Linked DNA regions of Homo sapiens. The protein of the gene in region 1 purifies or fractionates together with the protein of each later gene. This does not show direct contact. Each region holds a gene or a part of one and is shown on either strand. Other genes may lie near its edges.

Region 1 (9,589 bases):
GGAGGGGCCTAGCCTTTTGCTTCTTCATGGGGGTGGGGGGAGGGGTGTTCCCCACTTGTCACCCCTTTCCCCACCAGAACCATATGGAAGAAGAGCAGGCAGATCTCCACCTACCTGTTCATGCAGCTCCCTGCCTTCCTCATGTTTTTCTTCAGTCTCCCCAGGAGGTGTGGGGCTGGGACCTGAGGGGAAGGTCCCCAAAGGGTTTGTGACTCTCCTCCCTGTTGGCCTGACCTGATCCTACCTTGTCTTGGTACAGCACAACCTCAGCATCCCTGAAACAGGAGTGTCAGGGGTTACTGCCATCCAATAGGAGATGGGGTGGGGGTCTGATCTTTATTTTTGGGGGCTGCTGGTGGAGGGAAAGCCTGGACTGAGAGTTAGGTCTGGTGGGGTTGCTGAGAGGGCCTAGCGGCCTGCTGCTCTGTGAAGGGCTGAGCCCCGTGCCAGTTGTTAAACTGAGAAGTTTTAACTTGTTTAGTGAATATTCAGGGCTGTCTCTACCCTTCAGATACACAAAATGGAAGGGGAAGGAAGGCGGCAAGAGAGGGCTTCTTACACTTTTTTCAATGCCTGCTTGAGAAAGAGGAGGCCCCTCGCGGAGCTGGTTTGCCTTCTTTTGTGTCCTGGTTTGATTCCTTATGGCTTCCGTTCTGTTCCCCCTCGCAGCCTGGCCTGTTTTAGGAAACTCAGGCTGAGAGTATCAGTTGCGTGGTGGTAGTTGCATTGTTCCAATTACCACTGTGTGTGGCCACATCCCAACAATTAAAATGCAGAAAAACACAAATTCACTGTCTTGACTTGATCCTAGAGGTGGCTGGGAGTTTGCTGTTTGTCCAAATGCCTCATGAAAAGCTGGAGAGTTTGCTTCATTCCCTGCTCCTCATAGCTGGTTAGCCTGAGGCCTGGGGTCTCTAGGGTAAAATCCTGCACTTAGGTTCCCTCTCTGGTTGATCTTTGAGGGCAGCAGAGTTAAGAAACCAAGAGCAGAAGTGATATAAGCTTTAGCTTCTCCCGTAAGAATATAGGGGAAGCAGCTGAAGAGAGCTCCCCGGAAGCTAGAATTTTGTTCAGGGTGGTAATAATTATGCATGAAAATGATAGTTAACTGTAATGATGATTGACTTCTCTTGCACCTTTCTTCCAGAGAACTCCAGGTACATCCAGGTTTATCTCTTTGCTCTTCCTTGTGCCCTCCTTCTAAGGTGTGAGTGGGGTAGAGATAATTCCTCTTTTTTGTAGAGTGATCTGCCCCCAAGGTCACAGAAGGAAGAGCCCTCTTGGGCTTTTCTTAGTGTGCAGGTGAGGGAGGATGGTATTCAGCCAGAGAGATGGACCCTATTGCCTTCTTCATCTTATTGATTTCATTACTTCTGACATTCTGAGGCCTTGAAGATTCACAAACGGGAACGAGAAATGGTAGTCTGTGTGGACTCCTGATTTTTATAGGTCAGATGGTACATTTTGTACATTTTAATATGTTATATTGTTCCTGTGACAGGTTAAGATTATTCTGCCCACTTTACATATGGGTAAACTGAGGCCAAGGAGTATTAAATGATTTGTCAAAACTCTTAGCAAATTGGATTAATAATTAGATTTCTTGATGATTTGTTCTCTTGACTAGCTAATGCTACACACATTCTCTGGTAAGCTGTCAGCTTGCTGCTCATTTCCGGGAATAGATAGAACAAAATCAAGACACTGGCTTAACCTCCCCTTTTCCCTTGAGCAAGGCCCCTCAGGTAATTGTGTGGGCTTGAAGCCTGTTATCTGATACAGTTAGTTTGCTTCTATCAGAAGTTGACCACGAGAAAGAATCTTGGTTAACTGTATCCATGGACTTTGCATCAGATGAGGCTAAAAACTTAGTTGAACAGTCATGGAGTTGTTGTTTACGACGTCTGTAGAGTTGAAATGTATTGGAATTACCCTGACCATTTCTTTATCTTCCCATTTGATAAGAAAACAAACACTGTATCTATTGGAAAACAATAATATATCAGATGTTTAGGCTGTGGGAGGACATAAAATCCTATGTACTCAGGTCTAAAGCAGAAAGTCTTGCCTACAACCACTGTTCTTCCTTGTTCTCTTATTACTATTTCTGTAGTTTAGGAGAAGGGTACCTCTTTTCACTTCTGACTGGAAGATAAAATACTGGGCTGATCTTGATGGAAATAATCATTTGGGCATCCCTCTCTCTCACTTGAGCAGCTGTTTTCTAAGTGGTGCTGGTATTCCAGTTAGAAACAACAGAGCATGAACCAGTTTAAGGGTAGCAAATAAGTTTCAACTTGATTGCCAACTCTATTTTATTTCATATCTGGACTGCCAAGTTCATAATTTCTGAAGCTGTGTTTAGGCTTAGCTGGAAAGAGCTGTGATCAATTGATGTCTGCCAGAGGCCTGGCTTAGGGGTGCTGTGGTATGTGTGCCATGCATTTTCCATCTCTGGACCAGGTGCATCTCTAATATCACTTGGGGCTGGTCCCTCTAATTGGCAGACTCAGCAGGCATGACTGGAGAGGGAAGTCCCAATGGTGCTAGAATGGTGCTGCAGTGGCAGAAGACGGCTCACAAGTGAGGTCTGGAAGAACAACAGGGAAGACATCCATCATTTGCTCCAAAGTGTGCAAGTCAAATCCTGGGGAGAATCATGATAACCCTGATCACTGAGCAGCTACAGAAGCAGACTCTGGATGAGCTGAAATGCACACGCTTCAGCATCAGTCTGGTAAAAGACCAGTCTTCCTGCTTCTCCACGACCCCCTCCCCCTTTTTTCTGAGGCTGATTGTTGCTATTACTTTACTCTTGTCCTGTGCTGTATGAATCATGGTACTTAACCTGGAAGAGCCCACTAATGGCTCAAAACCCAGCCCAAAAGGAAGGGGGCAGGGATTTTTCCACCGATAGAGAAGGGACAGCAAAACTTGGGTGGAGAAGGGTTTGAGATGTTGGAAGATGTGGATTGTTTGACTTACTAACTTTGGGAAGACAAGAGGAAGAACACTTAATGTCCCTAACATCCCTGTAGCTCATGAATCGCAGAGGAGAACTGAAGAGGGCTTCCTAGAAATCTGTCAGTGTGTCCTGAATCCAAATCATGATGGATATTCTCTCTTTCTTAGCCTTTGCCTGATCATGCAGACATCTCCAACTGTGGGAACTCTTTCCAGCTTGTGTCTGGTAAGGCATCGTGTGTGTTTGTGTACGTGTGTGTACCCATTCCTCTCTCCACACATTTCTATCATTGGTTTCCAGTGACCAGGGCTAGCGAGCCTACCTCTAGAACCTTCTTGCCAGGGTCAACTTCTGAGATTGACAGTTGTCTTTCATGTTCTAGCATGAAAGTTATCTGGTTGGTTTGCTCTTATTCTAGCTTTGTGGGGACTTGTATAATCTAATTTTTTGAATAGGTAATACATTCACATGGTTCAAAATTTAAAAAATAACAACAAAAAGGTTATGCTGAGAAAAGTCTCTCTTACTCTCCCGTTCCCTATCTACCCAGCTTCTACCACCTCCCTAAAAGTATTAGTTTCTTATACAGTATATGTGACTAGAATTTCTTTATATAAAAAGAAGCAAATGTATATATTTATTTCCTTTCTTTTTTAAGTTCTCGGATACATGTGCAGAACGTGCAGGTTCGTTACATAGGTGTACATGTGCCATGGTGGTTAGCTGCATCTATTTTATTTCCACGTTTTTAACACAAAAGGTTGCATACTATATATTATTTTGTACCTTTAAAAAAAAAAATGGGACCGGGCCTAGTGGGTCACACCTATAATCCCAGCACTTTGGGAGGCCAAGGTGGGCAGATCACCTGAGGTCGGGAGTTCAAGACCAGCCTGACCAACATGGAGAAACCCCATCTCTACTAAAAATATAAAATTAGCCAGGCGTCGTGGCGCATGCCTGTAATCCCAGCTACTCGGGAGGCTGAGGCAGGAGAATCACTTGAACCCAGGAGGTAGAGGTTGCGGTGAGCCAAGATTGCGCCATTGCACTCTAGCCTGGGCAACAAGAGCAAAACTCTGTCTCAAAAAAAAAAAAAAATTGCTGGGCACAGTGGCTCATGCCTGTAATCCTAGCACTTTGGGAGGCCGAGGTGGGCGGATCATGAGGTCAGGAGTTCGAGACCAGCCTGGCCAACACAGTGAAACCCTGTCTCTACTAAAAATACAAAAATTAGCCTGGCATGGTGGTACACACCTGTAATCCCAGCTACTCGGGAGGGCAAGGCAGGAGAATCACTTGAACCCAGGAGGTGGAGGTTGTGGTGAGCCCAGATCATGCCACTGCACTCCAGCCTGCACAACAAAGCAAGACTCCATCTCAAAAAAAAAAAAAACAAAAAACAAAAAAAACTTTAATATAGCTAGGAGATCTTTCCCTATCAGAATGCTGAGTATTCATTCCCTTGTTATATATAGCTACATATTATTACACTGCATAGATGTACAGTGGCTTATTTAATGAGTTTTCTATTGATGTGCATTTAGGTTATTTCTAATCTTGTTTGGATACATAAAACTGTAGTGGGCCAGACGTGGTGACTCATGCCTGTAATCCCAGCACTTTGGGAGGCCGAGGTGGGCAGATAGCATGAAGCCAGGAGTTCGAGACCAGCCTGGCCAGCATGGTGAAACCCCGTCTCTATTAAAAATACAAAAATTAGCTGGGCATGGTGGCAGGCGCCTGTAATCCCAGCTACTCAGGAGGCTGAGGCAGGAGAATCCCTGGAATCCAGGAGGCGGAGGTTGCAGTGAGCCGAGATCGCACCCACTGCACTCCAGCTTGGGCAACAGAGCGAGATTCCATCTCAAAAAAAAAAAAAAGAAAGAAAAAAGAAACTGTAGTGAATAACCTTGTACATATGTCATTTTTTCACATGTGAAAATATATCTGAGGTATAAATTCGTAGATTATTAATTACTGAGTTAAAGGGCCCCTGATCGTAGGGACATTTAGATGGAGGCATCACTGGTGGACAATCAGAACTCCCTAACTCGTGCTGCTCAGCAGTTCTGCATCTCATTTTCTTTTCTGGGATACCTAGCAAGGGAAGTGAGTTGGCAAAAACATGTTCATTCAGTCTCTTCCTCCTGTTTATTAAAGACTTGCTGAAAGCCAGGTATTGTGTCATAAGTATAGAGCAGGAACTCATGGTCCCTGCCCTCATAGTGGTTAGTAGAGGGAAGAACTATAGACCAAATACACTCAGTATGAATTTTGCCACCATCAAGTCTGACTTCGTATACTTGTCGTTTGCCCCAAATATCCAGCCCCTGCAGAATTCCAGCCAGCTAGCCAGAGGAGTTTGGATTAGGCCCTTTGTCCCTTAATGAGCCGTCTCCCAAAAGTCACAATTTTGGTTGGAATACAGTGAGTGAGGATTGTTTCTTTTAGTCCATTTTCCCTTCCTTCTCTTGGTCCCTCCATCTGTTTGGATTTAAGAGAAGGCCTAGGGGAAGGGAATCGGAATATGTGGGTGGCCAGACAGAAACGAAGATGAGCAGCACAAAGTCAGGGTTTCCCAAGCCCAGGTTTCACTGTCAAAGGCCTTCCCCACCCTGTTTGCCCTCCCTAGGAATAAAAGTGATCTCTTACCTGCCTGATTACCTCTTACTTCTTGGCAGTCCTAACTCCTGACTTGGTGCTGTTGACACATGAGAGGAGGAAAGGCCGAGAAAGAAGAGCATAGGCCTGCTTTTCAGCATCCAGGGCAAGCGTGGGGGAGGGGCGAGGGAGAGATGAGCAGGACACTCACAAACGTGTTTGTTTCTCTTGACTTCTTTTACCTTTGAGAGGGAGTGGCAGGCAGTAGATGAAATGTTTTTGATTCCAGGTAGTTGGTCACAATGGAGGCAATAGAGCATAGTGGTTTAAAAACCTAGCCTTCGCATCAGACAGACCTGGATTTGAATCCTCCTTTGGTCTTTTGAGTGCTATGTGATTTTGGGAAAGTTATTGAATTTCTCTTATCTGTGAAATGGGGATAATGATAACGATACTACCTACCTCATAAGGTTTTTGGAAATTTTCACATAAAATGCTCCATACATTATGTGGCAAATGGTAAGTTCTTAAAAAATGTAAGCTATCATTAATATTATTCTTATTATAAATGCCTTCCAGAAGGTGCTTCCTGGAGGGGCCTGCCCCACTGTTCCTGTGCTGAGTTCCAGGACAGCCTCAACTTCAGCTACCATCCCTCAGGCCTGAGCCTGCACCTCAGACCACCCAGTCGGGGAAACTCCCCCAAGGAGCAGCCCTTCTCCCAAGTCCTAAGACCTGAGCCCCCAGATCCAGAGAAGCTTCCTGTGCCCCCTGCCCCTCCATCCAAGAGGCACTGCCGCTCACTCTCAGTGCCCGTGGACCTGTCTCGCTGGCAGCCGGTGTGGCGGCCCGCCCCCTCCAAGCTGTGGACTCCCATAAAGCACCGGGGCAGTGGTGGAGGGGGTGGGCCGCAGGTGCCTCACCAGAGCCCCCCAAAGCGGGTCTCCAGCCTCAGGTTCCTCCAAGCTCCCAGTGCCTCTTCTCAATGTGCCCCAGCTCACAGACCCTACAGCCCTCCTTTCTTCAGCCTGGCCCTGGCCCAAGATTCCTCTCGACCCTGCGCCGCCTCCCCTCAAAGTGGCTCCTGGGAGAGTGATGCTGAGTCCTTGTCACCTTGCCCACCTCAGCGCCGCTTCTCCCTGTCACCCAGTCTGGGCCCGCAGGCAAGCCGCTTCTTGCCCTCTGCCCGGAGCTCTCCCGCATCCTCCCCAGAGCTGCCCTGGCGACCTCGAGGTCTCCGCAACCTTCCCCGAAGCCGCTCACAGCCTTGTGATCTGGATGCCCGCAAAACTGGGGTCAAGCGGCGCCACGAGGAAGACCCCCGGCGTCTGCGGCCTTCGTTGGACTTTGACAAGATGAATCAGGTGGGACCAGCAAGACTAGGGGAGCTTAGATGGGAGTGTGGGGACTGTTCTGTTTCCACTTTTGAGCTAGCCCCTAGCTTCATTACCCTGCCGCCCCCACCACCAACAGCACCTCCTTTAGCTCTTAGCTAGGGTGACCTACCATCCCAGTTTGCCTGGGACTGTCCCAGTGTTAGCACTGAAAGTCCCCCCATCCTGTGAAATGCCTTAATCCTGGGAGTTAGAGAAACTGGGGTGAGACCCATGTTAAACCTTCCAACAGAGATCCCAAATTGTCCTGCAAGAGGTACTTTCCCTCCTTTCCAAGAATGCACAAGCTGCAAAAAATTCCATCAGTACCTACTCCTTGTGCCCAAAGCTGTTTTTGCCACTTGCCTGTCACTGCTTCAAAGTGGGTCTGTGAGGGCTGAAGCAAGATGGGCTGCTACAGTGTATTCATCTGTTAGACAAATGTTTTTTGACTTCCTGGTGTGAGTACAATTATTGTATGTATGCACTTTGCTCACTTTTTTCATATTATTCTTTCTAGACCACTAGGTTACAAACCTCTTTAAGAATTAATTAATTTTTTCATACAGTCGTCCATCCCATCTGCAAACATTTACTGACTCTGACTAGGCACTGGCAGTACAAAGTAATGAAACACTGCAGATGATGTTCCTGCCCTCACGGAGCTTCTATTCTTCAATTCAATGGAAACAATGGGCTCCAAATTTTGTCAGAAAGTTTACAAACGCCAGGCATGGTGGCTAACGCCTGTAATCCCAGCACTTTGGGAGGCCAAGGCAGGCGGATCATGAGGTCAGGAGATTGAGACCATCCTGGCTAACACGGTGAAACCTCGTCTCTACTAAAAATATAAAAAATTAGCCGGGCGTGGGCCGGGCACCTGTAGTCCCAGCTACTGGGGAGGCTGAGGCAGGAGAATGGCGTGAACCCGGGAGGCAGAGCTTGCAGTGAGCCAAGATCACGCCACTGCACTCCAGCCAGGGTGACAGAGTGAGACTCCGTCTCAAAAAAAAAAAGTTTACAAACCTCACCCTAAAGAATTCTTGCCTTCAGGTGTAACTGTCTTCTTTGTTTGTTTGACAGAAACCATACTCAGGAGGTCTTTGTCTCCAAGAAACAGCCCGGGAAGGCAGCAGCATCTCTCCACCATGGTTCATGGCCTGTAGCCCCCCACCCCTCTCTGCTTCCTGCAGCCCCACTGGGGGTTCCTCCCAGGTGCTGAGTGAAAGCGAAGAGGAGGAGGAGGGGGCTGTGCGGTGGGGTCGGCAGGCGCTGAGCAAGCGGACACTGTGCCAGCGGGACTTTGGGGACCTGGACTTGAATTTGATTGAGGAAAACTAAAACTGAGAGGCTACTTCCTGGGGCCACACAGACTGACTCTCTCATGGCTACTAACAAGTGTCGAGTCCCCAAGGCTGGGGGCCGAGCCTGGGAATGGGGGTGAGTGGAGGGCTCCGACTCAGGGCAGCTGGAAATCTTCTCGCTCCAGCAAGCTCGACCATGCCAAGAGACTGGCCGGGACAAGATAAACGGAGCTGGTGGCGGGAGGGACAGCCCCAGAGCAGACCCTTCCTATGGCGGCCCTGAGTGTGAGTATCCCTGCCACCAAGAGAGCAATGGGCAGGGAAGGAAGGGGTCTGCCGACCCCAGCTCGGGGAATTTCACTAGCCCCTTTGCTTCAAAGGGCACTTGTGTCTTAGAATTTGGCCAGGGTGGGGGGTTGAGTCAGCCTCCTCAGAGAAACTGCGTGAGAGTGTGTGCGTGCATGGGAGTGTACTTGTGGAAAGGTGTGTTTGCGTAGCCTTAGGGAAGGAAGGCAATTGCTCCTTAACAGCAGAGTATCATGATACCCCCAGGATCTTGAGTTTTTTACAGGATGTTGGGTTTGCTCAAGGAGTCAAGAGGAGGGCACCAAGTTTTCCTTTTTTCTAAATAGCTCTGGAACCAGGCTTGTAATCCATAGCATCACCGACTCTGCAAAGGATTTCATTTTGGGGTACAGCAGGGTGTTTTAAGTGCTGTGACTTCAGCTAATGATCTTTTCTTCAGCCCCACCCCCTCCCCACTAGCTCGATCTAGTATATTGGGGAATGCAGGTGGGGGGTGTCACCATATTTTTTCTGAGCTGGCCTTTTTTTCTCATCAGATTGTCCAGGCTATATTCCACCTGCCTCTTTTGCCCTCTTGAGTAGAGTTGCACACAGCACATGGGCAACTGAAGCAGGGTTGAGGGGCTCTCTCTCTCTCTCCTCTGCTGATGGGACCCTTTTCCCCTCACCCTCTGCCCTTCTAAGTCATAGACTAGGTAGGAAGGCCCTATATTGGTCCCCAGCATCTACTGAGGCAGACCTGCAACAGAAGTGGCATTCAGTCCCCAGCAGACATGGGTGAGCTCACCCCAGCACTGCTGTTGGGAAGGTGACTGCAGGAAACCAATTCTTACAAGATCCAGGCCCAGCCTTTTTGACCTGCTTGAGAGGGAAGAAGGGGTGTTTAGCATTTAATAGTTTGCTTGTCTTCCACTCCTGCCAGGAAGTGTTTATTTGCCTCTAATTGGGCCTGAGAGACCATAGGGAGGTTGGGGCTCACTGAGGGATTGGCTGAGGATGTATAAAGCAAAGGCTGTGAGAAGCAGTTGGGAGTTTGG
Region 2 (16,205 bases), on another chromosome or scaffold:
GACGGGGTTTCACCCTGTTAGCCAGGATGGTCTCGATCTCCTGACCTTGTGATCCGCCCGCCTCAGCCTCCCAAAGTGCTGGGATTACAGGCGTGAGCCACCGCGCCCGGCCGACATTGTTCTTTATAAGATCTGCCTTGCAGGAAGGATCAGAGAGAGTGCCTGCCAACCAAAGACAAAGAGACGCCATACCCCAGGTCTCTCACATATCAGGACTTATAGGGTCTCCTTTTTTACCTAACTATACACTTAAGACCCCTCTAAGACTGCCTTGTAGACAGCAGGGGAAGAAGGGCTCTGTCAACAGGACAGGGGAGAGTTGACCCTGTAGTTCTAAATTAGCAGACTTGAAAAAGATTGTTTGAAAGGAGTAGTAATAATATACATTGGAAAGATGTCACTAAATCTGTCCAGAAAATTATTTTGAATCTACAAAGGGATACCGTTTGTCCAGTGGAGTGAAACACTGAAAGAGACCTCTTTGTTAATTGAGGTTTTTAACTTCTAGAACATGTGGCATGACGTTCTTTTGATTATGGAGTGTAGGGGTGGGTTGCCCCTACACACCTGTGGGTGTTTCTCGTAAGGTGGGACGAGAGATTTGGAAAAGAAAAAGACACAGAGACAAAGTATAGAGAAAGAAATAAGGGGACCCGGGGAACCAGCGTTCAGCATATGGAGGATCCCGCCAGCCTCTGAGTTCCCTTAGTATTTATTGATCATCTGTGGGTGTTTCTCGAAGAGGGGGATGTGTCAGGGTCACAAGACAATTGTGGGGAGAGGGTCAGCAGACAAACACGTGAACAAAGGTCTTTGCATCATAGACAATGTAAAGGATTAAGTGCTGTGCTTTTAGATATGCATACACATAAATATCTCAATGCTTTACAAAGCAGTATTGCTGCCCGCAGGTCCCACCTCCAGCCCTAAGGCGGTTTTTCCCTATCTCAGTAGATGGAGCATACAATCGGGTTTTATACCGAGACATTCCATTGCCCAGGGACAGGCAGGAGACAGATGCCTTCCTCTTGTCTCAACTGCAAGAGGCATTCCTTCCTCTTTTACTAATCCTCCTCAGCACAGACCCTTTACGGGTGTCGGGCTGGGGGACGGTCAGGTCTTTCCCTTCCCACGAGGCCATATTTCAGACTATCACATGGGGAGAAACCTTGGACAATACCTGGCTTTCCTATGCAGAGGTCCCTGCGGCCTTCCGCAGTGTTTGTGTCCCTGGGTACTTGAGATTAGGGAGTGGTGATGACTCTTAAGGAGCATGCTGCCTTCAAGCATCTGTTTAACAAAGCACATCTTGCACCACCCTTAATCCATTTAACTCTGAGTTGACACAGCACATGTTTCAGAGAGCACGGGGTTGGGGGTAAGGTTATAGATTAACAGAATCTCAAGGCAGAAGAATTTTTCTTAGTACATAACAAAATGGAGTCTCCTATGTCTACTTATTTCTACACAGACACAGTAACAATCTGATCTCTCTTGCTTTTCCGCACAATGGAGGGCTACCCCAGGCATTGACTTTCACCTGGCAGAGAGGGGAAGCGAGCAAATAGAGGATCGCATGAAAGGTTTTAAAGGGTCAGGTCTAGGTGTAGTGGATATCACATCTTCCACTTTTTATTGGCCAGCACCCACTCACAAGCCTCTGCCTAAATGCAAAGGAGACTGCTGAGCAGCCACTTCCCAGCTGCAACTCTCCCTGTGGAAGGGGAGCCAGTCTCTGGTGGACAGCTCATGTTTCTACCACATACAAAGAAGCTTCAAAGTGGCTCCAACCCTAGCTGTGAGTCAGCATCACTTGTGGAGCTTTGACAAAATGCATGTGCCTGGGCCCCAGCCCCACAGATTCTGATTTAGTTGGTTGGGCTGGTGCCTGGGAGAATCTGGATTTTCGAAGGCTCCACCAATGATCCCAGTGCACAGCCAGGCTTGAGAGTCACTGGTATGCCTTACAGTGTACACCTCTGGCATTGCCTCTCAACAGTTTAAAAAAAACTTTTTTTTTTTTTTAGACAGACTCTTGCTCTGTCACCAGGCTGGAGTGCAGTGGTGTGATTTTGGCTCACTGCAACCTCCACCTCCCAGGTGCAAGTGATTCTCCTGCCTCAGCCTCCGGAGTAGCTGGGACTACAGGAGCACACCAACATGCCCAGCTAATTTTTGTATTTTTAGTAGAGACAGGGTTTCACCATGTTAGCCAGGATAGTCTCGATCTCTTGACCTCGTGATCCACCCGCCTCGGCCTCCCAAAGTGCTGGGATTACAGGCATGCGCCACCACACCCAGCCAAATAAAAAATCATTTCTTAGAGTTTTCAAGGTGAACAATGTTGTTTAGTTGGCTTCCATTTTGTATCTGCTGGTAAAATATTCACCATGATAAACCCAAAACAGGACTGTGAGTCAATACTTTTGCACAGGTTTTCAGTAATAGAGTATATGTAATGATTAATAATATATAATGTAATTTATTTCATATCAACATACAACACAATAAAATAATGCAGCCATGTAGTATTGATGATTTATTGATTTCTGAGAAGCTCACAGCTGTTCTTTGTGCCATGAAATCATTGTACTGCATTTAGAAAGCTATTCTTTTGTTTTTTATGATTGGAAACATTTTATATTCCATTTTGTGTAATACAGAACATTTTAAAATACATTTCACAATTTCTAAATTTCGATATAATTATTAAAAAATGATTACTTCAGACTAGTCTCTTACAAATGTTACTAAACACAAATATTATACATAAAAGGCCATCTTCATTAAATAGATTAGAATGAATTACTCCTTCAGCTACATTCCCACTGTAAGAGAATACATTCTTGGGGAATATATTCTGTGTATATGTATTATGTCTTATTTTATGTTTTTATCATTTATATATATTTTTCATTTTTAATCTTTTCTACTTAATAGATTTATTTATATTTATACTTTTATTTTATACTCATTTTTATTTACATGGTCTCTGTAGTTATTAGATAGTGAGCTCTTGAAAGATAAGGCTAGTATTATGTTCATTGTCATTATCATCTACAATTATGTTACACAAACAAGCACTCAAATGTTCATTACAATGACTGGAAATCATTTGAACCATTTAACTTATTCAGTGTCTATTATGTCAGGGAGTACAGCAATGAATAAAACAGACCAAAAAAAAAAAAAAAATCCCTGCCCCATAAAGCTTACATTTTGGTGGAGAAAGACAGATAGTAAACAAATCAATACACAAAATATAAAGTCTCTGATCTAGTGATGAGAAAAATAAAGCAGGGGAGTGAGATTAAGCTATTACCAAAGGGGGTGGCACTCCCATTTTACATGGGGAGGAAGGAAAGATCTCAAGAAAAGGGAAATTGGGGTTAGATTAAAGAATTTGGGCCAGGCATGGTGGCTCATGCCTGTAATCCCAGCACTTTGGGAGGCTGATGTGGGAGGACTGCTTGATTCTAGCAGTTCGAGACCAGCGCGGGGAACACAGGAAGACCTCATCACTATAAAAATTTTTAGAAAAAATAAATTATAAAAAAAAGAAAAAGAAAAAAAGAATTTGAGTAAAAACTATAAGAAGGGAGGGCAATCCGTGTCTATGTCTGGGGCGGAGCTCTGCAGGGAGAGGCAACACAAGCATCAGTGCTCTGAGGCTGCAGCAGGAGAGGTGTACACAGAACAGCAGGGAGGCCAGTGTCAAGGCAGTGAGCAAGCTGGAGAGTGCAAGGGAAGGGGCCAGAGAGGTGAATGGGGTTCTCTAGGCCACCTTGACTTTGAGATGAGAAGAGAGCTTTGAGTGAAGGGGTGGCTTTGCTTACATTTTTAAAAGTTCAGTCTGGCTTTTTCATTTTGTCTTGGATCTTTGAGGCTGCTAGAACAGAATCCCATACACTGGGTACCTTGTCAACAACAGAAATAAAGTCCAACATCAAGGCACCTGCAGATTCGGTGTCTGGTGAGGGCCTGCTTCCTGGCTCATAGGTGATGCCTTCTCTATGTGTCCTTATATGGCAGAAGGAGTGAGGGAGCTCTGTGGGGTCTCTTTTATAAGGACATGAATCCCATTTATGGCAGCTCGGCCCTCATGACCCAAACACCTACCAAAGGCTCCACCTTCAAACACCTTCATATTGGGGATTAGGTTTCAACATATGACTACTGGGGGCACCTAAACATTCAGTCTATAGCAAGTTTGTATTAGGGTACAGGGGGACAAGAGTGAAAAGAGGGAGAACAGTTAAGAGATTAGTGTAAGAATCCAAGTAACAGATGATGGTGGCTTGGACCAGGACACTGGCAGTGGGATTGGTAAGCAGTGATCAGATGCTAGATATATTTAGAACAGAACTTACAAGGAGTGAGAAAAAGAGAGGCAGCAAGAATGATTCCAAGGTATTTGGAGTAACTGGAAGGATGGAGTTATCATAATAGAGATCGGGGAGACTGAGTGCACAAGTTTGGAAGGGAAGACCAGCAGCTCTGTTGTGGATATGTTAAGTTTGAGATGCCTATTGGAGATCTAAGTGGAAATGCAAATAGACATTAGACATGAACTCTGGAGTTCAGGAGAGATCCAGGTTGGAGATACAAATTAGGGAGTTTTCAACCTATAAGTGTTATTTAAAACATTGAGACTGCCTGAGCTGACAGGGAAGTTAGTGCAGACAGATAAGAAGTCTGAGGACTGAATCCTGGGGTACCCCAAGCTAAGGTATCCAAGATATTAGAAAGGCAAGGAAGGAGGAAAACCAGTGTGAGGCACCACAAGGACAATGTGTTTCAAGAAGGGAAATGATCAACTGTGCAAATATTGCTGGGAAGTCAAGAAGGAAGACTTGAGATCAGGACTGAGACCTGGCCCTTGGATTTGGCGATATGGAATTTAATGGAGAGTTGATAAGAAACGATTGGAAAACCTGATTAGAATGGGCTTGAGAGAGTTGGAAGAGAGGACCTGGAGACGTTAGTAGTAGCAAATCTTTCAAGGGTCTCCGCCAATGAGTCATCGGGAGGTAGCTGGAGAAGGAGTGGAATCAAGAGGGTTAGAGATGCACCCCCCCCCACCCCCTCATAGCCAGGCGCGGTGGCTCATGCCTGTAATCCCAGGACTTTGGGAGGCCGAGGCGGGCGGATCACGAGGTCAGGAGATCGAGACCATCCTGGCTAACACGGTGAAACACCGTCTCTACTAAAAAAAAAAAAAAAAAAAAAAAAATTAGCCGGGCGTGGTGGCGGGCGCCTGTAGTCCCAGCTACTTGGGAGGCTGAGGCAGGAGAATGGCGTGAAACCGGGAGGTGGAGGTTGCAGTGAGCCGAGATCGCGCCACTGCACTCCAGCCTGGGCGACAGAGCGAGACTCTGTCTCAAAAAAAAAAAAAAAAAAAAAGCCCCTCACCCTCCACGCTGCCAAGAATGAGAAAATGGCATGCTTGAGGGAGATCTGGATGATCAAGTAGAGGAAAAATTTGGTGTTTTAGGAAAGGAAAGGGAGAATTGCGACAGTCTTTGGGGGGTGGCGCGTGAGGGGAGGGAGATGACCTGGTCCTAGGTAGGAGATGGGGCAGTCATTCCATCTAGGGGAATAGGAGGGACAGGACCGCCGAGTAGGAGGGCACAGATGATGGTGGGCAGTAAACTTGGGGAGGAAGTTAATTACCTAGCGGGATAATAGATGAGTTCTTTCCATTTTCCAAATGTTCCAATATGTATTACTACACAGTTTCACAAGATATTAAAGGAAACAATTCATTCCGACATACGGCTTGTATGAGTGAAAACAGGGAGAACGGTGAGAGCAGTTTTAAAACTTACTCCCTAAACGCACTCCAGGGTCGGAAGCGACCTCTAGGGGTTCATTTAGACCATTACTTTTTTCTTTTTCTTGCTCTTAAAAGTATAAAACAGCACGGTCCACATTTAATATTATTTTTAAAGAAACACGATCAGTTTAATTTAGAAAAGAGTATCAGGCATGTGAGTAAAATAAACATAAACCATCTGCAGTCCAAGCTGGAGTTGCTATTATCATGACTAAGAGTTTTCTCTCTAAATATATCATTCTCTATAGCACCATTAATATTTATGTTCATTCTGCTTCTTGAATGAGTGGTTTTATTAAACCAAGAGGAGGGACAACTAGTGGGCTATTTGATCCAGGTCTTCTTGATGCTTACATGGAGTACAAACCCCACATATTTTTCATTGCTGGTTTCACTTGATTTGGTGTTGTCACTGGGTTTCCTCTGCCTGGGATGTTCTCATCCCCTGGATTAATTAACTCACTTCCTCATGGGAGTCTTTCCAGACCTTCCAGGCTACCTTAGGGTCCCCCCATCATGCAAGCTCACACACTCCATGCTTCTTTCTGCCTCATCCCATTTCTCCCAACTGTCATGAAAGAGTCAATTCTGTCATTACTGTTTAATGTTTTTTCTGGTAAGTCATGAGACCCATAATGGCAGAGACTGTGTCTGGCTTGTTCACTGCTGTCTCCTTAGCACTTAGCTCAGTGCCCAGCACTTACCCTGTACTCAATAAACATTAATTGAATGAGAACACACTATCCTGCCGGAGACTCTTGCCCATGTTCCTATTCACATCTTTTGGATCCCACTGCAGAGGAGACTGAATTTCAGAGATGAATTTTTATTTCTAAAATACAGTTTGCAATTGCTTTAGGTGCATCTGTGACAGATGCAACAATTTGTCACAAAACTGTCCCAGCTATTCTTTCAATAGCACAGTCTTCAGGATTGAAGCGTTAAGTTTCCAGCTCTCCTGCAAAGAAACTCTTTGTGACAAAGGCTGAATCCTTAGATATAACCCTGACCTTATCAGACCATTTATTTCCCAAAATATAACTAAGGGAAAGACAGTAAGATGCCAATACAGGGGGCAGTATAATGAGACCATTTCACATTGTGCAGCCTTATCCATGGGTCCTAACCCATACTGTCCCCTTATTTCCAGATTTGGTAATATTCTGGTGCCTCTAGGTCTTAGTTCAGCAACAGTACCACTAAAATGGACATGGTGGTAGTATTTATCCACCTGAGGTCTTTAGGCCAGCCCAGCCTCATCTTTGAAATTTTTGTGAGTGCTTCTATTTACTACCAGAGACTGAGAACAGGGGAATGGCTGGTTGTCAAATGTCACTCTGGTCTATAATCCCTGGATCCTAGACATGTGACATGGAATGGAGTGGGAACAGAGTGAAGTGCTCTGAGCAGGAAGTAAAGCTTGTCTCCAAGTGTACCCGGAATGTCTGTTATCATACCTTCTATAATCTCCTACATACAACTCCCCCAGTTTAATCTCTTGGTATTATAATTTTTGGTGTAGTACTTTTGATGCATGCCCTAAAATAAATTCTCTTCTATTGCTTGTCCAAAGGTAGCAGCGTTTTCCTAAAAATCACAACTTTAAACTTGGTTGTTCTGGAGGCAAGTGTGATGAGTAAGTCCACTCCATAAGAATCAATAAGAATTTCTTTTATTCTAGCTGGGCGTGGTGGTGAGCATCTGTAGTTCCAGATACTCAGGAGGCTGAGGCAGGAGGGTCACTTGAGCCTATGGTTTTTGTTTGTTTTTTTGTTTTGCTTTTTTTTTTTTTTTGAAACAGGGTCTCGCTCTGCCACCCAGGCTGGAGTGCAGTGGCACAATCATAGCTCACTGCAGCCTCGACTTCTTGGGCTCAAGAGATCCTCCCACCTTAGCCTGTCGAGCAGCTGGGACTACAGGCATGCGCCACCACGCCCGGCTAATTTTTTTGATATTTAATAGAGATGAGGTCTTGCTATGTTGCCCAGGATGTTCTAACTCCTCAAGTGATCCTCCTGCCTCAGCCTCCCAAAGTGCTGGGGTTACAGGCGTGAGCCACCGTGCCCAGCACATGTCTTCTAAAAGCTGCTGTTTCTTCCTTTTTCAGGAGTTCTTTCCCATACTGTTCTTCTGGATGACTCCTCGTCATCCTTCGGATCTCAAATGAAAGGTCATTTAGAGAGGCTTGGCCTGACCATACAATTCAATTAGTTTCTTACCCCTTTAGTCTCTCTCATAGACCCTGTTATTTTCCTTCATCTCATTTATCACAAGTCTTCATATATTTATTGCGTTGGATACATTCAATTCTGTCGATTTTCTTAGAATGTAAGGTTTCCAAGGGAAGGGACTTCGTTTTGTTCACTTTTGTATTCCTAGAACCTAGCACAATGCCTGACACATAGCAGGTGTTCCATAAATATCTGCGGACTGACTGTCTATTTCACTTATCCTTGTTCCTTGTACTGCATTTCAGTTCTCGCTACTGCAGTGTAACCTCCAAGAGACAGGAGAAAATCATAATACCCCCCTCCCTCCATCACTGAGTGATACTGAGACGGCGTCCTTGCACGTTTGAGCAGCTGCTGCCTTCTCCTGGGAGGCTGTCAAGTACCCCAAGGTGCACAATAATTCTTTTAGTAATTGCCTGACTGAGGCAAATCAGTAGAGCTGTCAGAAATGCTTTCAAACTTAACATTCATTGGGTTCTTGGGCACCTGAAATTGCAAACAATTGCATTACAATTAAGTGAGAATTAGCAGAATGTTACAGTTCTTTAACAATTTGCGTAACAAACCGAGGCGTCCTACGCCATCTCGCTGAAATGAAATTCGGATGTAGACACCCTTGCGCTTCAGGACTCTACGCTCTTGCAGCAGCTCCTCTGCCCAATGGGGGGCGGCAGCATCTCAGTAACTCACTCGAAAGACGGGTAGGCGGGAGGAGACATTCGCGTTCAAAATCTTTTTGCCTCTATCCGCTCGCCGTAGCGCTTTAGCCCGCTCGAGTTTCAATGCGCGTTGTTGCTTAACGAAGCAGAGTCCTACACACTGTCTGCTGCTCTCCTGATCATGGCTTCTCCGAGTTCTTTCACCTACTATTGCCCTCCATCTTCCTCCCCCGTCTGGTCAGAGCCGCTGTACAGTCTGAGGCCCGAGCACGCGCGAGAGCGGTTGCAGGACGACTCGGTGGAAACAGTCACGTCCATAGAACAGGTGAGGTGGCAGGACTGGGCGAGGCGCCCGCGCGATGTGTTCTGGGAGCGCGAGTCCCGTTCGTAGGGCCGCCCGGGTGCGGAACTCACCGGGGAACTACGACTCCCACAGCGCACCGCGGTGCCTTTCCTCTGGGAAGCTCCGGGCGCCCAGGCTTGGGCTTCGTCGTGGAGCGTTTGCGCGGCCAGCTTGGGGAAGGGTCGTTTCAAGGTTGGGCTTGGAGGAGAGGGCAGTAGCCGAGTCCCCTCTGCCCTAAAGAACGAGAAGAATCGTGTTCTATGCCTGGAGGACAGAGGCAGCCCGTGCGGGTCGGACAGCCCACTCTGTTCTGCCAGTACTTCGGGAGGTTCTGGGGTGCATAGTGCACTTTTCCCAACCTGCCCTCAGCTTCTGGAGGCAGAGAGCAGGGCCAGGCTGCTGTCATGCCGTTTCACGATCTGTTTAATTTTTGACCTACAGTGCCAGGTTTGGGGGCCCGCCTCGTGGGTGGGCATTTTGGTAGTCATTCAGCCATTTGAGCACCAGCTACGTGTCGGACACAATATTAAACGATGGAAGTACAAGGAAATAAAACAGCTCCTGACCAGGAGCCTGGTTGGGGGACAGGCAGGAAAACAGTTTGGAAAGTGATCTAATAGAAAGAATGGATTTTGGACTACTAATCATTCCCTAAGGCCTAGAAGTAGGATCGAACCTATCATTTTGAAAAGTGTTTGGCGAATGAGTATATATTCATATGCCCAAAACCATAGTTTTGTTTTTCTTCTTATTCCCTAATTGGAATTGTTCCCAAGGTTGCTATGTGGAACTGTTTATCCATCTGTCCCTAGGAGAAGTGGTTAGGATAATTCTTAACACTAATAAATGAACATTCTGCTGCTTACTGAAATAAGATCTCTTAGTGAGATCAGTCTCCAGGCTTTACCTTGGAGAGACCTGTTTTGTATTTCCTACTTTAAGTTGGAAGCCTGTACTTTGGCAAAATTAGTAACAATAATTGTTTTATTGTACAGTTATGACTAAATAGAATTATAAATTTATAACAGAAACAAGGGCTTGATACGTGGTTATTCACAAAGTAGCAGAGAAAATATTTTAACTGGAGATTTAAACTTCATGGAATTTAGGGTAGCAAAGGAAATCCTCACCTCTCGAATCTAGCTAATTCTCCAGGTTGGTTTGCCTACCAGTGTGTCCCAGGGAAGGCTGACTGCAAAAGATTGTAAAGAAATTTCCCATTGATGAAAAACCTACAGGATCTTTGCAGAATTCCTAAATGATGGATTGCTGAGTTGATTCAGGTCAAGTGTTTTACTTATTATCTGACCTTAGACTATGGGATTGCCTTTTTTTTTTTTTTTTTTTTTGAGATGGGGTCTCGCCCTGTTGCCAGGCTGGGATGCACTGGCTTACTGCACCCTCCGCCTCCCGGGTTCACGCCATTCGCCTGCCTCAGCCTCCAGAGTAGCTGAGACTACAGGCGCCCACCACCACGCCTGGCTAATTTTTGTATTTTAGTAGAGACAGGTTTCACCATGTGGCCAGGCTGGTTTTGAACTCCTGACCTCCAGTGATCTGCCCTCCTCGGCCTCCTAGAGTGCTGGGATTACAGTCGTGAGCCACTGCTCCTGGTGCGAGTATCTTTCAAATCTAGACCCAACGGTATGGCAGACAGTAAAGAATCTTATATTTCTTTTTCATGTTGTTATTCCAGCACACATTATTAGAGTCTAGGATGAACAGTTTCAGGTAGTAGGATGATAATGTTGTATCTCATTTTTGTGGCCTTCCTCACTGTTTTAATAATCATGTTAGTGACCATTTATTGAGTCTCAGCACAGTGCTAAATGCTCTCCATATGTGGTATCATTCAATCCTTTCACTTTTTATGGATGAGAAGACTGAGGTTTAGAGACCTACCACATTGGTAGGTTAATGATACATTCATCAAAAGTAACAACCTTGTTAGGAGGAGTTGTTTACAGAGGATATACTAGTACTCTTTCAGTTTTAACTAAAGCTTCCATTTACTGATAGCTCAATTTTGTGCCATTGCCAGTAAAAACAAATTGATGGCTGACACCTGTAATCCCAGCACTTTGGGAGTTCGAGGCGGGAAGATCACCTGAGCCCAAGAGACCAACTTGGGCAACATAGCAAGACCCTGTCTCTACCAAAAAAAAAAAAAAAAAAAAAAGTAGCTGAGCGTGGTGGCATGCACCTGTAGTCCCAGCTACTTGGGAAGCTGAGGTGGGTGAATTGTTTTTGAGCTCAGAAGTTCACAGATGAGCCATGATCGAGCCACGGTACTCTAGCCTGGGCAACAGAGTAAAACCCTGTCTCTTAAAACAAAAAACGACTATACTGATTTTGGTACTGGCCTGGGCAACATAGCAAGACCCTGTGTCTATTTAAGATGAAAGCTTTTCAAATTAAAAAAAAAAACAAACAAAAAATAAATGCTTGTTACCTGCTTCCTATCTGATTATCAGAAGACTCGGTTTATTTGTTAAGCAATAATTTGGTAATAGGAGTTAAACCTATAAATAGTGGAAGGAGTCCTTAGCTGTGAGTCGTCTGTTCCATTCGTTGATTCTCATTCATTCAGCAAATACTTGAGCGCCTTCTACGTGCCAGGCACTGTTCTAGACACTCGGCATAAGTTGTTAAACAAAAGAGGCCAAGTTGATGCCTTTATGAAACTGTTTCTAGGCCAATGAGGCAGTCAATTAAAAGAGTTAATATCTATAGCTATCTCAATATAAAATGTTAATTAGAAACGCTGTGGAGAGTAACACCTTGGGATAGAGGGGATAGGGTGTGTCAGGAATGGGTGGGGTGGGAGCAGGGGAGGTCTTCATATAAGGTGTTAAGGGGAACCCTCTGGTGACAACACATGTGATCTGAGACCTGAAGTCTCAGATGAGGGAGGAAGCCATCATGGATCTGGTGCAAGAGTATTCTGGGCAGAGAAAGCAGCAAGCACAAAGGACCAAGGCAGCAGAATGCCAGGTGAGCAGGGGGCTTAGCAAACCAGAGAGTAGGAGATGGGTCGGATCATGTAGGGTCTCATTGGCCTTTGGAAGTACTTTAAAATACCCTGACTGAGATGGAGAGCCACTTGGCTGTATACCTGCCATTTACTGCCCCAGATTCACTTGGCCCTTTTCTAGCCTGCTCTGTAGATGTGCCCCAGGAGGGGGCCCTGCACTGACAGGTTGCCTTGCTTTATGGCTGCGGGCCATGGGAAGTATTGCTGGGGGTGACCGAGAAGGAGAAGAATGAGACCACTGTATTTCTTCCCTCCTGCAGGCTTGTGTGGGGTGGGGTTTCCTTAGACTTAAGGTCACATTTCCTGTCATGTGCCTTCTCTGCGGAGCTCTTTGTCTCCCTCCCTCTCCATCCTTCACACCTTCAGGTCTATGAGGAGTTCAGGTACCCCTGATTTACCAGCTCCAGATACTGCATTTTCTCTTGTGGTTTCCCTACACCTGCCCACATCTTTGTAAATAGTTCCTTTATAAACTCTCCTCAAATCACCCACTTTGTGCCATCTGTTTCCTGCCAGGACTTAGACTGATCCATGATCAGAGAGTTTTGAGCAGGGGAGTGACACAGTCTGACTAGCATTTTAACAGGCTCATTTAGGTTACTGTCAAGAGTAGATGGTGGGGAGTGAGGGTGGATACAGGGAAACCAGTTAGGAGGCTATTGCAGTATCCTGGGAGAGAGGTGACGGTGGCTTAGCTCACAGTGACGGTAGTGGAGGTAATGAGAAATGGTCAGCTCTGGATATTTTTATGAAGGTCTCTACCTTGCTAAGCTGTTTTGTTAATGCAGATGCAGGGAGGGCCTTTCATGACACTAGAGAACAAGACATGGTTGTATTGTTAGTGCCTGCCTTCCTTATTGTGCCATCTGGAATCATCCCATTGCAGACACTCTGATTCAGGCCAGTAGGTTAATACTGATAGTCTCAGAGGTAGCAGCCTTGCCAAAAACAGGTGTTTACAAAAGATACTACTGTTTTTCTTTGAGTTTGTCTTTGAACAGAGGCAAACGCGTCCTCCACTTTAAATGGCATGGTGTCATTGAACCATTGGCATGGTTCATTGTCAATGAAGTGACTTGAACTCTGAGGGGAATATAAGAGAATTATTAGTCTTGATCCCTGCCCTCAAAATTCTTTTATCTTAGAGAGATAAAAAAGAATATGCTGTAAGGCCGAGTGCGGTGGCTCACTCCTGTAATCCCAGCACTTTGGGAGGCTGAGGCTGGCGGATCACTGGAGGTCAGGAGTTTGAGACCAGCCTAGCCAACATGGTGAAACCTCATCTCTACTAAAAAAATACAAAAATTAGCTAGGCGTGGTGGTGTGCACCTGTAATACCAGCTACTCAGGACACTGAGGCAGGTGAATCTCTTTAACCTGGGAGGCGGAGGTTGCAGTGAGCCGAGATTGCACCATTGCACTCAAGCCTGGGTGACAGAGCAAGACTCCATCTCAAAAAAGAAAAAAATAAGAAGAATATGCTATAGGCAGTCACAGAGTGCTAAATTATAACTGCTTTGCACGAGGATTTTGGGGAGTTGAAAAGCCATCTGTGTGGGCTGAGGTGGTCAGGATGACTTCATGGAGAACGTGGAACTGGGTGGGCTGTAAAAAATAGAGTTTGGGGCAGCCATTCAAGGAGGGAGAGCTGTTTTGAGGGAAGACTCAGGCTTGACTGGGGGCGTTAAGATGGCTTACCAGGAACGGAGGGTGCAGGTTGGATGTGGTAGGAAATGAGGTGAGCTGGGCGGGTGGGCCCCTATCAGGGTATTAAGAGGCAGGTGATGTGCTGGCTTCAGGTTCGGGCAGTGGGCCACCACATATCCTAAGGAGGGACCAGCGGAACAGAATCCTGACCTGCTGTTGACTTATTTCAGCTTATAGGATCCAAAATATTAGTAAATGGAGGTGGAACAAATCACTAAATATGATAAAACTTCCCAACTTTTTATGCCTCTGATAGAAGGGACTGGAGCTCTGCTTGGTTAGGTGGTCAGTAGGCTAGCTTTCTGAATCCATTTTATTTTATTGAAATTCAGCATATACCATATTGCCCAAGTGTAAAGTAATCCTGCATATCAAAATTTCCCCATTAAAAAGTCCAAAAGGTTGTTTTTGGTCAAGTTGAAAATACATGTACTTTTAGGTATATAAGTGAAAAATACCTGCTTACAAAATTTACATTTAAATTTGGGTCCATATACCTACTTAAAATCACCTACTTTATAAAGTAACACTAATTTAGAAATGCTGGTTTTCCTCCTCTTCTTATTTATAAAATGTTTCTTTTCAGACTCTTCACATGCATCTTTGACTTCACTATTTTTATCATCACTGGAGCCACTTTTTGAGTCAGCCAATGTGGATTTCCGGACCACATGTTCAGTTCTTGAGATACATCGTTTTTGAATATGAATAAGGTGTTACCACTGAACAGTTTATTCCAAGTTACAAGTATCCACTTGCATAACATTAGACTTTTTTTTTAAGAAAGGGTCTCACTTTGTCGCCCAGGCTGGAGTGCGGTGATGCAATCACCACTCACTGTAGCCTTGACCTCACAGGCCTGCCTTGGCCTACCAAAGTGTTGGGATTACAGACGTGAGCCTAGAATTTTTTTTTTGCAGTGTTTCCAGTTGGTATATATTTGTGGTCACTGCAACTTAACCACTTTATTACTTTTTCAAATGATTTCTATTTTTTTTTAAAGACAGGGTCTCACTCTGTTTCCCAGGCTGGAGTGCAGTGGCATGATCATGGCTCACTGTAGCAACTTTCCAGGCTCAAGTGATCCTTCCACCTCAGCCTCTTGACTAGCTGGAACTACTGGCGTGCGCTACCATGTTCGGCTACTTTTTATATTTTTTTGTAGAGACAGGGTTTCCCTGTGTTGCCCAGGCTGGTCCCGAACTCGAGCTATCCGCCCACCTTGGACTCCCAAAGTACAGGCATGAGCCACCGCGCCCAGCTAAAATGATCTTTAAAACGTTGGTCTACTGGCCAGGCATGGTGACTGATGCCTGTAATCCTGGCACTTTGGAAGGCCAAGTGGGTGGATAGCTTGAGCCCACAAATTCGAGACAGCCTGGGCAACAGGGTGAGACTCCATCTCTAAAAAAAGTAAAAAATGAATAAACAAAATAAAAAGCTGGCCTTACAATGGCAGTTTACACATGGAAGTGTGAGTTTATATCTCCAGGGATAATTACTAAATTTGTGTTTAATTTATCTTGTTTCACTGATTACCATTAGCCAAAGCAGCCTTAACTGAGGTTGTTTTAGGGTATTGTGTCATCCCCAGCTGGTACTTTGTATTCAAAATAAGGAAATTGCAAAACTTCCTACAGCAAGAGGTACTTTGTAAGTATTTGAATATAAAGTGACTTGTATTTTCTGAGAGAGAATTTTTTTTGAAAAGTCTTGCCTTATATTTCATATATTAAATGACTCTTCTACTGCAGCTTCAATGACATGAATCTTAGGCAGCAAATCTACTTTCTGAAACATTCTGTCTCTGGGAGAGGAGGGAGATATAGGAAGCAGAGAAGTGATAGTGCCTGGTATGAAAGTTGGTGCCTCATGAGATTGGCTTTAGATAGAAGCTGTGAAAGAGAAAGTGCCAAATGCATTAGTTGTTGTTTACCACTTACTGAATGGAAACTATTCTCTGCTTTTATTGATTGGATTTCTTTTTTTTTTTCTTTTTTTATTTTTATTTTTTTTGAGACAGAGTTTCGCTCTTGTCGCCCAGGCTGGAGTGCAGTGGTGCGATCTCCACTCACCGTAACCTCCGCCTCCTGGGTTCAAGCGATTCTCCTGCCTCAGGCTCCCAAGTACCTGGGATTACAGGCATGTGCTACCACACCCGGCTAATTTTTGTATTTTAGTAGAGGTGGGGTTTTACCATGTTGACCAGGCTGGTCTCAAACTCCTGACCTCAAATGATCCACCCGCTTCCACCTCCCAAAGTGCTGGGATTACAGGCGTGAGGTACCATGCCTGGCCTAGTGATTGGATTTCTATTGATTAAATGAAAAACTCCATGAAATACCTTTTAAACAGAGCTGTCCAGAATGCAGGCATTTGGTTAGCTCTTCATTTA

Evidence for each region.
Region 2: the proteins of FAM53C (region 1) and FNTB purify together in Homo sapiens (affinity purification with mass spectrometry, with the first as the bait; 3 studies listed by BioGRID). This does not show direct contact.

Annotation. Positions count from the first base shown.
Region 1 is NC_000005.10:138,338,677-138,348,265, forward strand, and holds part of FAM53C (protein FAM53C), read left to right. Parts: intron 1-2,507; 5' UTR 2,508-2,540; coding exon of another isoform or gene 2,541-2,588; 5' UTR 2,589-2,659; coding exon 2,660-2,737; intron 2,738-3,132; coding exon 3,133-3,190; intron 3,191-6,148; coding exon 6,149-6,933; intron 6,934-8,025; coding exon 8,026-8,283; 3' UTR 8,284-9,589.
Region 2 is NC_000014.9:64,978,047-64,994,251, forward strand, and holds the start of FNTB (protein farnesyltransferase subunit beta), read left to right. Parts: upstream 1-8,848; 5' UTR 8,849-8,907; coding exon 8,908-9,051; exon of another isoform or gene 9,052-9,067; intron 9,068-16,205. UniProt on the Homo sapiens protein: Essential subunit of the farnesyltransferase complex. Catalyzes the transfer of a farnesyl moiety from farnesyl diphosphate to a cysteine at the fourth position from the C-terminus of several proteins having the C-terminal sequence Cys-aliphatic-aliphatic-X.